Homo sapiens: one gene and its partners. The protein of the gene in region 1 purifies or fractionates together with the protein of each later gene. This does not show direct contact. Each region holds a gene or a part of one and is shown in the gene's direction. Other genes may lie near its edges.

What was found. Proteins that work in one complex are often made in the same cells at the same time.
Region 2: the proteins of MLF1 (region 1) and SYNRG purify together in Homo sapiens (affinity purification with mass spectrometry; 4 studies listed by BioGRID and IntAct, with this or other methods). This does not show direct contact.
Region 3: the proteins of MLF1 (region 1) and PRKACB purify together in Homo sapiens (affinity purification with mass spectrometry; 3 studies listed by BioGRID and IntAct, with this or other methods). This does not show direct contact.
Region 4: the proteins of MLF1 (region 1) and ALMS1 purify together in Homo sapiens (affinity purification with mass spectrometry; 4 studies listed by BioGRID and IntAct, with this or other methods). This does not show direct contact.

What each region holds. Positions count from the first base shown.
Region 1 is NC_000003.12:158,577,694-158,581,193, forward strand, and holds part of MLF1 (myeloid leukemia factor 1), read left to right. Parts: intron 1-3,500. UniProt on the Homo sapiens protein: Involved in lineage commitment of primary hemopoietic progenitors by restricting erythroid formation and enhancing myeloid formation.
Region 2 is NC_000017.11:37,550,419-37,553,918, reverse strand, and holds part of SYNRG (synergin gamma), read left to right. Parts: coding exon 1-804; intron 805-3,500. UniProt on the Homo sapiens protein: Plays a role in endocytosis and/or membrane trafficking at the trans-Golgi network (TGN). May act by linking the adapter protein complex AP-1 to other proteins. Component of clathrin-coated vesicles.
Region 3 is NC_000001.11:84,234,771-84,238,270, forward strand, and holds part of PRKACB (cAMP-dependent protein kinase catalytic subunit beta), read left to right. Parts: intron 1-409; coding exon 410-535; 3' UTR 536-3,500. UniProt on the Homo sapiens protein: Mediates cAMP-dependent signaling triggered by receptor binding to GPCRs.
Region 4 is NC_000002.12:73,448,336-73,451,835, forward strand, and holds part of ALMS1 (centrosome-associated protein ALMS1), read left to right. Parts: coding exon 1-3,500. UniProt on the Homo sapiens protein: Involved in PCM1-dependent intracellular transport. Required, directly or indirectly, for the localization of NCAPD2 to the proximal ends of centrioles.

The sequences.
Region 1 (3,500 bases):
TGGTTCATGAGGTAAACACCACTGAATTAGGAGCCCAGGAACACAGCATGACTAGGACATGGTTGCTGGGTCAAAAATGCCATACAGTAGCATGTACCCACAAGATAATTCCTACTTCTGCCAATTAATATTGTAAATATCCATGAAAAAGGAGTGAACTATTTATAGAATATCAGGGGAGCATAATCATTTCCACAATTTTTTTGATATCAAAGGCTTTTGCCACACCAACACTTTGTACTTCAAGACAATGGAAAAATAGAATTGCTTAATAAAAATGTAATTCATTCTTTAAATATTTCTTCAGTTTCTACTATAGGCCGAACCCTGTGGGTTCTCTTTTAAATTTTTAGATGTCTTGGTTCCTGCCCTCAAGATCCTTCTTTGAATGTTACATGCATTATTTCTAGTATCAAAACATGGATCTTCTGGTCTATTTTCCTTATAGACCAGTCTACCTCATTGAAACTAGGGAACATTTCTTTATGATCAAGAGAACCATAACCATCTGCTGGCTAAGCTTTTGCCACTACCATGTATAATGGAAGGGAGGAATTTCCCTTAATGAGTGAGCCTGCCATGTCAGTTATCTGAGAACCTTATGTAATAGGTAATGCTCTTTGCTTAGAAGCACAAGTATCTATATTCTTATATAGATGAAAAAGAAGTGTAACTTAGGCAAAATAAGTGTGTGTGTGTGTGTGTGTGTACATATGTATTTGAGAGAGTTTTAAAAACAATAAATTATTCTAAAGGGAGACATTACCAGCCCTTAAACACATGTATGTACGTATGTACATACATACATACAAACACACACACACACACACACACACGTACACACTATGTTGAAATCATTCCCAAGTGACCTGGAATCAATCTAAGAGTTAAGACATAAACACTTTTGAAGGGGAAGTAGGCAACAATTTATTTTTCCTGCCTTGTGATATATGCTGAAGGTAAATAATATAGAATAGAAAAAGTACGTTTGAGACCAAAGTTTATTCAGTTTGGTTGTGGTTTGTGTGAGCAATTCTAAGAGAGGAGGTATATAGTCATCAGTGAGTAAAAGTACATTTTTCTTGACCTAAATGAAAATACATCCTCATGGAAAATCTGAAAAGTATAGAAAGTTTGGTAGCAGAAATAATACAACCCATTATTTTGATGTATTTTGTTTCAGATGTCCACATGTGGATTTTTATTTTCCAAAATTCGGACCACACTTTATGGTTAATTATTCAATGCTTTTCTGCAACATATACCATGAACGTTTTCCTGGTCTTTAGATATTCACTAAAGCATGACTTTAGAGTCTGCAAAATATTGCACCCTATGAACATACAAAGCATATTTCTCACATAAATCTTTAACAACATTTTCAAATTATTACCTTAGACTCTTTGTGTACATGAAATGACTAGTTTGTATAGCATGACCTTTTTAAAACCTCCTATTTCCAATTTGTTTTCCTAGAAGAATGAAATTTTATTTTCAAAAGAGAACATTATGAATGGGCTAAAATTTTTCATTTGAGAAAAAAAGCCTAGGTTAATTTTAAAAATATTAAAACAACTGTGTGCTACCATAGAATTTTTTTAGTTTTGATAAAAGTGAATTCAAACTTGGACAAGAGAAACATTAAAGCCTTATCTCCAAGCAGCTGCCTTTCTGGGTAGACATGAATTAAACTCACTAGAAGTTTCAGCCAGATTTCTTCCTGAATGGTTCAGACAGTTGCAAACACCAGACTATAGGCTCGCTTTTGTTTAGTGCATCTTCCAACAGGCAGTCATTTGTTCATGTCACTCAGAAAGATAAAATTTTTAGCATTTGCTGAACATACACATATTCAAATAAACATTTAAATATTCCCCTACTTCTATATAAAGAAAGAAAAACCCAGGCAAATTTTAAATGAGCCATATTTTGTTGATTAATTTTTAGCCCAATTATAATGCAATGAGAAAAATTAATTTTACTAAATTTTGATTCTGTAGAAAAGTAATAGCTGTTTAGCACTCCCTTATTCAAAGAACAAATTTAGTATTTCTTGAAATACTTTTCTTCATTGTAGTCAAATCACATCTACATATCTAAAGGAAAAGTTGACTGGTTTTCCTAAGTAAGTATATATTAATAGGAACAAGCATTTTAGTCTCCATACTTTAACCATACTCTAAGCTGTAAATGTCCAGTGAGTTTGGAGCTGTAAGCAAAAGGACCTCCTTTTGAAATGCCTGTTTTAAAACATCAAATGGTATGAAATCCTTTAACCTCATGCAGTTACATTTATTATGAAATATTTCAAACATACTGCAAAGGTATAACGAATACTTTGGAATAATCTGGTTTTTGAGGTAGGAGTTAGAAAATGTTCCATGGGTAACTCATTTGTGCATTTTAGAACTACTTGAAACTCTGTACCTTCAAATAAAAAGTAGAGTGGGGTGGAAGTAGGGAGAGCATTAGGAAAAATGGCTAATGCATACTGGACTTAATACCTAGGTGATGGGTTGATACGTGTAGCAAACCACCATGGCACATGTTCACCTATGTAACAAACCTGCACATCCTGCACATGTACCCCGGAACTTAAAAAAAAAAAAGAAAGATTTTGTGAGGTGGAAAAAAAAAGTAGAGTGATACGTATGCCAAATTTTGAATTACTAATTTTAAAGTAATTTTGTTCTTCATAATCTGATTTTGGAAAACAAAAAACGACTCCCTTTCTGCCTTCTAGTGTGCTAAAACATGAGCTGCTCCGTGTGTACTATTGATCTGTACACACTGAGATTTTAAATTAAAATTAATTTATAAATTGTCACAACTTCTTTATAGTGCTTGTTGCATATAATTTTGCTAGAATAGTGATTCTCAAACTTTTAACAGGTAGGAAATCTAGGAATGGTAGTCTTAAATTTCCTTTGCCCCTCAAGACAAAAACTCATACTAAAAATCCTACAAGAATCTGGTATGTGGCTGGGCATGGTTGCTCACACCTGTAATCCCAGCACTTTGGGATGCTGAAACGGGCAGAGCCCAGGAGCTCGAGACCAGCCTGAGCAACATGGCAAAATCCTGTCTCTACCAGAAAAAAAAAAAAAAAAATTATCCAGGCATGGTAGTGCACGCCTATAGTCCCAGCTAAGGAGGCTGAGGTGGGAGGATCAATTGAGCTTAGGAGGTCAAAGCTGCAGTGAGCCATGAACATGCCACATTGCACTCCAGCTGACAGAATGAAACTCTGTCTCAAAATAATAATATGCCATGTAAGAAGCTTAAGGTTACCACTTCACGCTAATAACAAATTAAAAACTGAACAACCTGAGAAAACAACTTTTCTTGTATATAGCAGAGAATCGAGGTCACAGGGCAAATCTCTGCCCCCATAATTGGAGATAGGCAGATAGAGAGAATCACAACTTAACTGGTGCAGAAACCTCTTCAGGAACCAGTGCGAGGGTAGTAGGAAAACCTGACCTGTAGTTGACAAATTA
Region 2 (3,500 bases), on another chromosome or scaffold:
AGAAACAACAAACACAAGTGAAAAACCCTCTGAACTTAGCAGACCTAGATATGTTTTCCTCAGTTAATTGCAGCAGCGAGAAACCATTGTCTTTTTCAGCTGTGTTTAGCACATCAAAATCAGTTTCTACACCACAGTCAACAGGTTCTGCTGCTACTATGACAGCATTGGCAGCAACAAAAACTTCTAGTTTGGCTGATGATTTTGGAGAATTCAGCCTTTTTGGGGAATATTCTGGTCTAGCACCTGTTGGGGAGCAGGATGACTTTGCAGATTTTATGGCTTTCAGTAATAGCTCTATTTCATCTGAGCAAAAGCCGGATGACAAATATGATGCCCTTAAAGAGGAAGCCAGTCCTGTTCCTCTAACCAGCAACGTGGGCAGCACAGTGAAGGGTGGACAAAACTCGACTGCTGCGTCTACCAAGTACGATGTCTTCAGACAACTTTCTCTGGAAGGGTCTGGACTAGGTGTTGAAGACCTGAAAGATAACACTCCTTCAGGAAAAAGTGATGATGATTTTGCTGACTTCCACTCCAGTAAATTTTCTTCCATAAACTCGGACAAATCCCTGGGAGAGAAAGCAGTGGCTTTCAGACACACCAAAGAAGACTCTGCATCAGTGAAGTCCTTAGATCTCCCTTCCATTGGTGGCAGCAGTGTTGGCAAGGAGGACTCTGAAGATGCACTCTCTGTTCAGTTTGACATGAAATTGGCTGATGTGGGAGGAGATCTTAAGCATGTCATGTCTGATAGCTCTTTGGATTTACCAACAGTTAGTGGCCAGCATCCTCCTGCTGCAGGTGAGGAATTGGTGAGATTGCTCTGGTGATGGTGTTGTAGATTTCAAAGATGATTCTGCGGGTGTTGATTTACATGAGTAAGGCTCTGGCCCTTTAGCTTTATGAATCTCTAATAATCAACCTCTTTATTGCCAGTCTCCTTAAAGCAGTGTTAAATTTGATTCTATGGATACTTGATATGGATACTATGGCTACTGTGGAACTTAGATTGGGTAGCTAAGATATTTTTATTTTTGAAATCTAGCACCAGCTTGGTGTTAGAGGCACATAAAAAGTCACTGCTAAGTGAACCTCACATTGCCAGAAATTTGATAAAGACCTTTGCAGTGCCGGCAGTGTTCCTTCATTTCTGTGAGTAAAATCAGTGTTTCCCTCTCCTTTTTTCTTCTCTTGGGTATACACAGCAACTGCCAGTATAGTATTCTGTTTGATTTACAGAAATTAACTCTTGTTAGGTCAAGAAAGTAAAAATTTCTAACCACTTGTAGTGCAGTTTGCCACATCCTTTTAAGAGAAGAAGAGGGAAAGAGTTTATATATGAATGTTCTGTATGTCAGGGCCTGGCAAAGAGGAGGGTGTGTGTTGTCAGTGGAATCCAGGAGCTGTTTTCAGTGTTAACTCTATTACTGGAAATATTAAGTTGTAACAAATCTGTAGATGCTAGGATAGGGTAACTGCTAACTTTCTGATAAAATGTTTGAAAACATCTTATTAGGGAGCCCTCTTTAAATTCTGTGTAGATTTACATGTAGCAATTTACTCTCTAGTTCAACTTCTGTCATAAAAACTAGATTCCCAAGTGTCCTGGTTTTTCTTTTGTTTTGTTTTTTGATATGTATATAGAAAGATAAACCTATTTTGTGGCCTTTTAATAATGAGAAATATCTCAGTATCACTGTATTATTCTAGAAAATGTATTATGCATATGAAGGATTTGGTTTTGTCTAACTAGGGGGGACACGTGAGACACTTCCAAGTTTACAGATTCAGGCAGAAATTGTAAAGTCCTATAGCTTTTGCATATGTCAAATTGGCAAGTCGGAAAACAAAATTGCATCCATCCTTTGGTTATGGAAATGTTGTAGGTATTGCTAAACAGGCTGCTGAATCAGGAGCAAGTTAGCAGAGACATTGCATGTTTCATGTTGCTACTTGCTAAGGTATTTTTCAAATGCAGTGGGCGGTCTGAAGAGCTCCTGTGCCCTTGACTGTCTACTTTCTGTCTTTTTTTTTTTTTTTGTACTTTTCCTCAGAAATTTTCTTATTTTTTTGCTGCTGTTTGTTTGATAGAGTGATTGTGGGTTTTGTTTTGTTGGTTTTTTTTTTTTATGAGCTGCTTGAACCACAGCAGTTGGTTGCAAAGTGCTCTGTTTTCTGAACAATATTGGATTTTTATTTAAAAATCTCATAACATGTATACTAGCCTTTTGGACTCTGAAGTTATTAATTAGAAACTATTTTTCTGAAAGTGAATCTATATTCTTTCACAGTGCCAAGGTAGATGTCTTTATGAAATGAGGCTAATCCGGGTTTGGGGTGTCTTTTTTTTTCCCCCATTTTATTTGGAGGTTGGTTTTTTTGACCAAGCTTGTTCTTACTGACCTGTTAAAATAATCTTCTGTGCTCATGTTCTTTTATGTATGTTTGGAACATCCTCAGCTTGGAGCCTGTAATGTTCAAGCTAACTCTTCAGTTGGAGGATATTCTTAAAAGCAGATTGTTTCCTCCCATTGATCTGTAAACCTCCTGTCAGAAAGGAGCAGTATCCCTTTAGAGCGGTTGTTAAAAGGGGTTGATGTCTGACCAATGCGCTATATTGCTGTTGTGCAAAATTGCTGCATCAATGTATTGTAGAGGGTAAATGGCAAGGACTTATTCAAAGTAATGTAGTTTTATTTTATCCTCATGTTCACCACAGTATCTCTTGCTCTCTTAGTTTGAGGGTTAAAGGTACTTCTTGTTGGAGAAATAAGAAGTGAGCTGATGAAGAGAGAATAAAACCTGGTAGATTGCTATCTGCGGACCTTAATCCTGTTTAGAAGCCCTAACTTAACTCTGAAGGGGATACTGTCTCTTTTAACTCTTGCTATAATCATTTGTATGGAAGGTAGATAATACTGATAACATTGCCTGATTTCTCTGCGTATTATTACATTTAACCCTTTGAGGCCTTGCTGCATATAATTTCAACTAGGCTGTTTTTTCCCCCTGACTAAATTTAATCTGCGGCACTGAAGCATCTTGACGTGCAGTCATTAAAATCATATGGTTTTATTGGCAGCAAGAGCTGACCCTCATCTGTGACATTTTCAAAGGGTTAGCAAGACTTCTGTAGCTACCTACCTACCTATCTGTAAAGTAGCTCTTCTTTGACATTGAAAATCTTTGTATTTTAATTAGCACCTTTTTTTTTTTTTGGCTGCTTTTCTGATGTCTTTTTTTCAATTTAGACATTTTCTGTGTGAATGTGCCTTCAAATTTACTTTAGTATATTCCTCTGCAAATACTGATCTGCATGCTTATTCTGATGACTTCTTTTCCAGCTCTTCTGTATCACTCTCTTTTGTGATCTGTAAGTCTTGTGTTAATAAATAATTCTTTGGCATATTTTGAAAGTGTGGGGATGTGTGTAATTTGTACTTTTTCAGGGTTAGACCAAAGAAATACCTGGCTGATACCAAGTTTAAAGCAATAGT
Region 3 (3,500 bases), on another chromosome or scaffold:
GCTCGCACACGGTGCGTGCACCCACTGACCTGCGCCCACTGTCTGGCACTCCCTAGTGAGATGAACCTGGTACCTCAGATGGAAATGCAGAAATCACCCGTCTTCTGTGTCCCTCACGCTGGGAGCTGTAGACCGTACCTGTTCCTATTCGGCCATCTTGGCTTCTCCTCTTATCCCAGAAATTTCTTAAGTATTTTGTTGACCTGCATACTTCCTTGAATCAAAATGTTGAGGTTAATAGCTAACCTACTGCTTGCTGCTTCTTCTAGCACTATTATATTTTAGGAACCTAATGGCATCTAAGGATTTCACCGTGTAATAACAGTGGGAATTTATTTTTCTTGGTGTTTGGAAACTCTCAGGAATTTTTTTTTCCTTTTTCTTATTTTTCTCTCCCTCTCAATTATAGGTTGAAGCTCCATTCATACCAAAGTTTAGAGGCTCTGGAGATACCAGCAACTTTGATGACTATGAAGAAGAAGATATCCGTGTCTCTATAACAGAAAAATGTGCAAAAGAATTTGGTGAATTTTAAAGAGGAACAAGATGACATCTGAGCTCACACTCAGTGTTTGCACTCTGTTGAGAGATAAGGTAGAGCTGAGACCGTCCTTGTTGAAGCAGTTACCTAGTTCCTTCATTCCAACGACTGAGTGAGGTCTTTATTGCCATCATCCCGTGTGCGCACTCTGCATCCACCTATGTAACAAGGCACCGCTAAGCAAGCATTGTCTGTGCCATAACACAGTACTAGACCACTTTCTTACTTCTCTTTGGGTTGTCTTTCTCCTCTCCTATATCCATTTCTTCCTTTTCCAATTTCATTGGTTTTCTCTAAACAGTGCTCCATTTTATTTTGTTGGTGTTTCAGATGGGCAGTGTTATGGCTACGTGATATTTGAAGGGAAGGATAAGTGTTGCTTTCAGTAGTTATTGCCAATATTGTTGTTGGTCAATGGCTTGAAGATAAACTTTCTAATAATTATTATTTCTTTGAGTAGCTCAGACTTGGTTTTGCCAAAACTCTTGGTAATTTTTGAAGATAGACTGTCTTATCACCAAGGAAATTTATACAAATTAAGACTAACTTTCTTGGAATTCACTATTCTGGCAATAAATTTTGGTAGACTAATACAGTACAGCTAGACCCAGAAATTTGGAAGGCTGTAGATCAGAGGTTCTAGTTCCCTTTCCCTCCTTTTATATCCTCCTCTCCTTGAGTAATGAAGTGACCAGCCTGTGTAGTGTGACAAACGTGTCTCATTCAGCAGGAAAAACTAATGATATGGATCATCACCCAGATTCTCTCACTTGGTACCAGCATTTCTGTAGGTATTAGAGAAGAGTTCTAAGTTTTCTAAACCTTAACTGTTCCTTAAGGATTTTAGCCAGTATTTTAATAGAACATGATTAATGAAAGTGACAAATTTTAAATTTTCTCTAATAGTCCTCATCATAAACTTTTTAAAGGAAAATAAGCAAACTAAAAAGAACATTGGTTTAGATAAATACTTATACTTTGCAAAGTCAAAAATGGCTTGATTTTTGGAAACAATATAGAGGTATTCATATTTAAATGAGGGTTTACATTTGTTTTGTTTTGTAACCGTTAAAAAGAAGTTGTTTCCAGCTAATTATTGTGGTGTACTATATTTGTGAGCCTAGGGTAGGGGCACTGCTGCAACTTCTGCTTTCATCCCATGCCTCATCAATGAGGAAAGGGAACAAAGTGTATAAAACTGCCACAATTGTATTTTAATTTTGAGGTATGATATTTTCAGATATTTCATAATTTCTAACCTCTGTTCTCTCAGTAAACAGAATGTCTGATCGATCATGCAGATACAATGTTGGTATTTGAGAGGTTAGTTTTTTTCCTACACTTTTTTTTGCCAACTGACTTAACAACATTGCTGTCAGGTGGAAATTTCAAGCACTTTTGCACATTTAGTTCAGTGTTTGTTGAGAATCCATGGCTTAACCCACTTGTTTTGCTATTTTTTTCTTTGCTTTTAATTTTCCCCATCTGATTTTATCTCTGCGTTTCAGTGACCTACCTTAAAACAACACACGAGAAGAGTTAAACTGGGTTCATTTTAATGATCAATTTACCTGCATATAAAATTTATTTTTAATCAAGCTGATCTTAATGTATATAATCATTCTATTTGCTTTATTATCGGTGCAGGTAGGTCATTAACACCACTTCTTTTCATCTGTACCACACCCTGGTGAAACCTTTGAAGACATAAAAAAAACCTGTCTGAGATGTTCTTTCTACCAATCTATATGTCTTTCGGTTATCAAGTGTTTCTGCATGGTAATGTCATGTAAATGCTGATATTGATTTCACTGGTCCATCTATATTTAAAACGTGCAAGAAAAAAATAAAATACTCTGCTCTAGCAAGTTTTGTGTAACAAAGGCATATCGTCATGTTAATAAATTTAAAACATCATTCGTATAAAATATTTTAATTTTCTTGTATTTCATTTAGACCCAAGAACATGCTGACCAATGTGTTCTATATGTAAACTACAAATTCTATGGTAGCTTTGTTGTATATTATTGTAAAATTATTTTAATAAGTCATGGGGATGACAATTTGATTATTACAATTTAGTTTTCAGTAATCAAAAAGATTTCTATGAATTCTAAAAAATATTTTTTTCTATGAAATTACTAGTGCCCAGCTGTAGAATCTACCTTAGGTAGATGATCCCTAGACATACGTTGGTTTTGAGGGCTATTCAGCCATTCCATTTTACTCTCTATTTAAAGGCCGTGAGCAAGCTTGTCATGAGCAAATATGTCAAGGGAGTCAATTTCTGACCAATCAAGTACACTAAATTAGAATATTTTTAAAGTATGTAACATTCCCAGTTTCAGCCACAATTTAGCCAAGAATAAGATAAAAACTTGAATAAGAAGTAAGTAGCATAAATCAGTATTTAACCTAAAATTACATATTTGAAACAGAAGATATTATGTTATGCTCAGTAAATAATTAAGAGATGGCATTGTGTAAGAAGGAGCCCTAGACTGAAAGTCAAGACATCTGAATTTCAGGCTGGAAAACTATCAGTATGATCTCAGCCTCAGTTCTCTTGTCTGTAAAATGGAAGAACTGGATTAGGCAGTTTGTAAGATTCCTCCTAACTTTCACAGTCGATGACAAGATTGTCTTTTTATCTGATATTTTGAAGGGTATATTGCTTTGAAGTAAGTCTCAATAAGGCAATATATTTTAGGGCATCTTTCTTCTTATCTCTGACAGTGTTCTTAAAATTATTTGAATATCATAAGAGCCTTGGTGTCTGTCCTAATTCCTTTCTCACTCACCGATGCTGAATACCCAGTTGAATCAAACTGTCAACCTACCAAAAACGATATTGTGGCTTATGGGTATTGCTGTCTCATTCTTGGTATATTCTTGTGTTAACTGCCCATTGGCCTGAAAATACTCATTGTAAGCCTGAAAAAAAAAATCTTTCCCACTG
Region 4 (3,500 bases), on another chromosome or scaffold:
TGCTCCTGGACTAGCTGACCAGACAACTGGCATGTCAACTCTAACCTCTACTTCCTACTCACATAGAGAGAAGCCTGGTACTTTTTACCAACAAGAGTTACCAGAGAGTAACTTAACCGAAGAGCCTTTGGAAGTTTCAGCTGCTCCTGGCCCAGTGGAGCAGAAGACGGGAATACCTACAGTATCCTCTACATCCCACTCACATGTAGAGGACCTCCTCTTTTTCTATCGACAGACCTTGCCAGATGGTCATCTAACTGATCAGGCTCTGAAAGTCTCAGCTGTGTCTGGACCAGCTGACCAGAAGACTGGGACAGCAACAGTACTCTCTACTCCCCACTCACATAGAGAGAAGCCTGGTATTTTTTACCAACAAGAGTTCGCAGACAGTCATCAAACTGAAGAGACTCTTACTAAAGTTTCAGCCACTCCTGGACCAGCTGACCAGAAGACTGAGATACCAGCAGTACAGTCTAGTTCTTACTCACAAAGAGAAAAGCCTAGTATTTTGTACCCACAGGACTTAGCAGACAGTCATCTACCTGAAGAGGGTCTGAAAGTTTCAGCTGTTGCTGGACCAGCTGACCAGAAGACTGGCCTACCAACAGTACCCTCTAGTGCATACTCACACAGAGAGAAGCTCCTTGTTTTCTACCAACAGGCCTTGCTGGACAGCCATCTACCCGAAGAGGCTCTGAAAGTTTCAGCTGTTTCTGGACCAGCTGACGGAAAGACTGGGACACCAGCTGTAACCTCTACTTCCTCTGCGTCCTCTTCACTTGGAGAAAAGCCCAGTGCTTTCTATCAGCAGACCTTACCCAATAGTCATCTAACTGAAGAGGCTCTGAAAGTATCAATTGTTCCTGGACCAGGTGATCAGAAGACTGGGATACCCTCAGCACCATCTAGTTTCTACTCACACAGAGAGAAGCCCATTATTTTTTCCCAGCAGACCCTGCCAGACTTTCTTTTCCCTGAAGAAGCTCTGAAGGTTTCAGCTGTTTCTGTATTGGCTGCCCAGAAGACTGGGACACCAACAGTGTCCTCTAATTCTCACTCACATAGCGAGAAATCTAGTGTTTTCTACCAGCAAGAGTTGCCAGACAGTGATCTACCTAGAGAATCTCTGAAAATGTCTGCTATTCCTGGACTGACTGACCAGAAGACTGTCCCAACACCAACAGTACCTTCAGGTTCCTTCTCACATAGAGAGAAGCCCAGTATTTTCTATCAACAGGAGTGGCCAGATAGTTATGCAACTGAAAAGGCTCTGAAAGTTTCAACTGGCCCTGGACCAGCTGACCAGAAGACTGAGATACCAGCAGTACAGTCTAGTTCTTACCCACAGAGGGAGAAGCCTAGTGTTTTGTACCCACAGGTGTTATCAGACAGTCATCTACCTGAAGAGAGTCTGAAAGTTTCAGCCTTCCCTGGACCAGCTGACCAGATGACTGACACACCAGCAGTACCGTCTACTTTCTACTCACAAAGAGAGAAGCCTGGTATTTTCTACCAACAGACCTTGCCAGAGAGTCATCTGCCTAAAGAGGCTCTGAAAATTTCAGTAGCTCCTGGACTAGCAGACCAGAAGACTGGCACACCAACTGTAACCTCAACTTCCTACTCACAACATAGAGAAAAGCCCAGCATTTTCCACCAGCAGGCCTTGCCAGGTACTCATATACCTGAAGAGGCTCAGAAAGTTTCAGCTGTTACTGGACCAGGTAACCAGAAGACTTGGATACCAAGAGTACTTTCTACCTTCTACTCACAAAGAGAGAAACCTGGTATTTTCTATCAACAGACCTTGCCAGGTAGTCACATACCTGAAGAGGCACAGAAAGTTTCACCTGTTCTTGGACCAGCTGACCAGAAGACTGGGACACCAACTCCAACCTCTGCTTCTTACTCACACACAGAGAAGCCTGGTATTTTCTACCAACAGGTCTTGCCAGATAATCATCCAACTGAAGAGGCTCTGAAAATTTCAGTTGCCTCTGAACCAGTTGACCAGACAACTGGCACACCAGCTGTAACCTCTACTTCCTACTCACAATATAGAGAGAAGCCCAGCATTTTCTACCAACAGTCGTTGCCAAGTAGTCATCTAACTGAAGAGGCTAAGAATGTTTCAGCGGTTCCTGGACCAGCTGACCAGAAGACTGTGATACCAATTTTACCCTCTACTTTCTACTCACACACAGAGAAGCCTGGTGTTTTCTACCAACAGGTCTTGCCACATAGTCATCCAACTGAAGAGGCTCTGAAAATTTCAGTTGCCTCTGAACCAGTTGACCAGACAACTGGCACACCAACTGTAACCTCTACTTCTTACTCACAACATACAGAGAAGCCGAGTATTTTCTACCAACAGTCGTTGCCAGGTAGTCATCTAACTGAAGAGGCTAAGAACGTTTCAGCGGTTCCTGGACCAGGTGACCGGAAGACTGGGATACCAACTTTACCCTCTACTTTCTACTCACACACAGAGAAGCCTGGTAGTTTCTACCAACAGGTCTTGCCACATAGTCATCTACCTGAAGAGGCTTTGGAAGTTTCAGTTGCTCCTGGACCAGTTGACCAGACGATTGGCACACCAACTGTAACCTCCCCTTCCAGCTCATTTGGAGAGAAGCCCATTGTTATCTACAAACAGGCCTTTCCAGAGGGTCATCTACCTGAAGAGTCTCTGAAAGTTTCAGTTGCTCCTGGACCAGTTGGCCAGACAACTGGCGCACCAACTATAACCTCTCCTTCCTACTCACAACATAGAGCAAAGTCTGGCAGTTTCTACCAACTGGCATTGCTAGGTAGTCAAATACCTGAAGAGGCTCTCAGAGTTTCTTCTGCTCCTGGACCAGCTGACCAGACAACTGGCATACCAACCATAACCTCTACTTCCTACTCATTTGGAGAGAAGCCGATTGTTAACTACAAACAGGCCTTTCCAGATGGTCATCTACCTGAAGAGGCTCTGAAAGTTTCCATTGTTTCTGGACCTACTGAAAAAAAGACTGACATACCAGCAGGACCTTTAGGTTCCAGTGCACTTGGAGAGAAGCCCATTACTTTCTACCGGCAGGCTCTGCTAGACAGTCCTCTAAATAAAGAGGTTGTGAAAGTTTCAGCTGCTCCTGGACCAGCTGACCAGAAGACTGAGACATTACCAGTACATTCTACTAGCTACTCAAATAGGGGGAAGCCTGTCATTTTCTACCAGCAGACCCTATCAGACAGTCATTTACCTGAAGAAGCTCTGAAAGTTCCACCTGTTCCTGGACCAGATGCCCAGAAGACTGAGACACCATCAGTATCCTCTAGTTTATACTCATATAGAGAGAAGCCCATTGTCTTCTACCAACAGGCCCTGCCAGACAGTGAGCTAACTCAAGAAGCTCTGAAAGTTTCAGCTGTTCCTCAACCAGCTGACCAGAAGACTGGGTTATCTACTGTAACTTCCTCTTTCTATTCACATACAGAGAAGCCTAATATTTCTTACC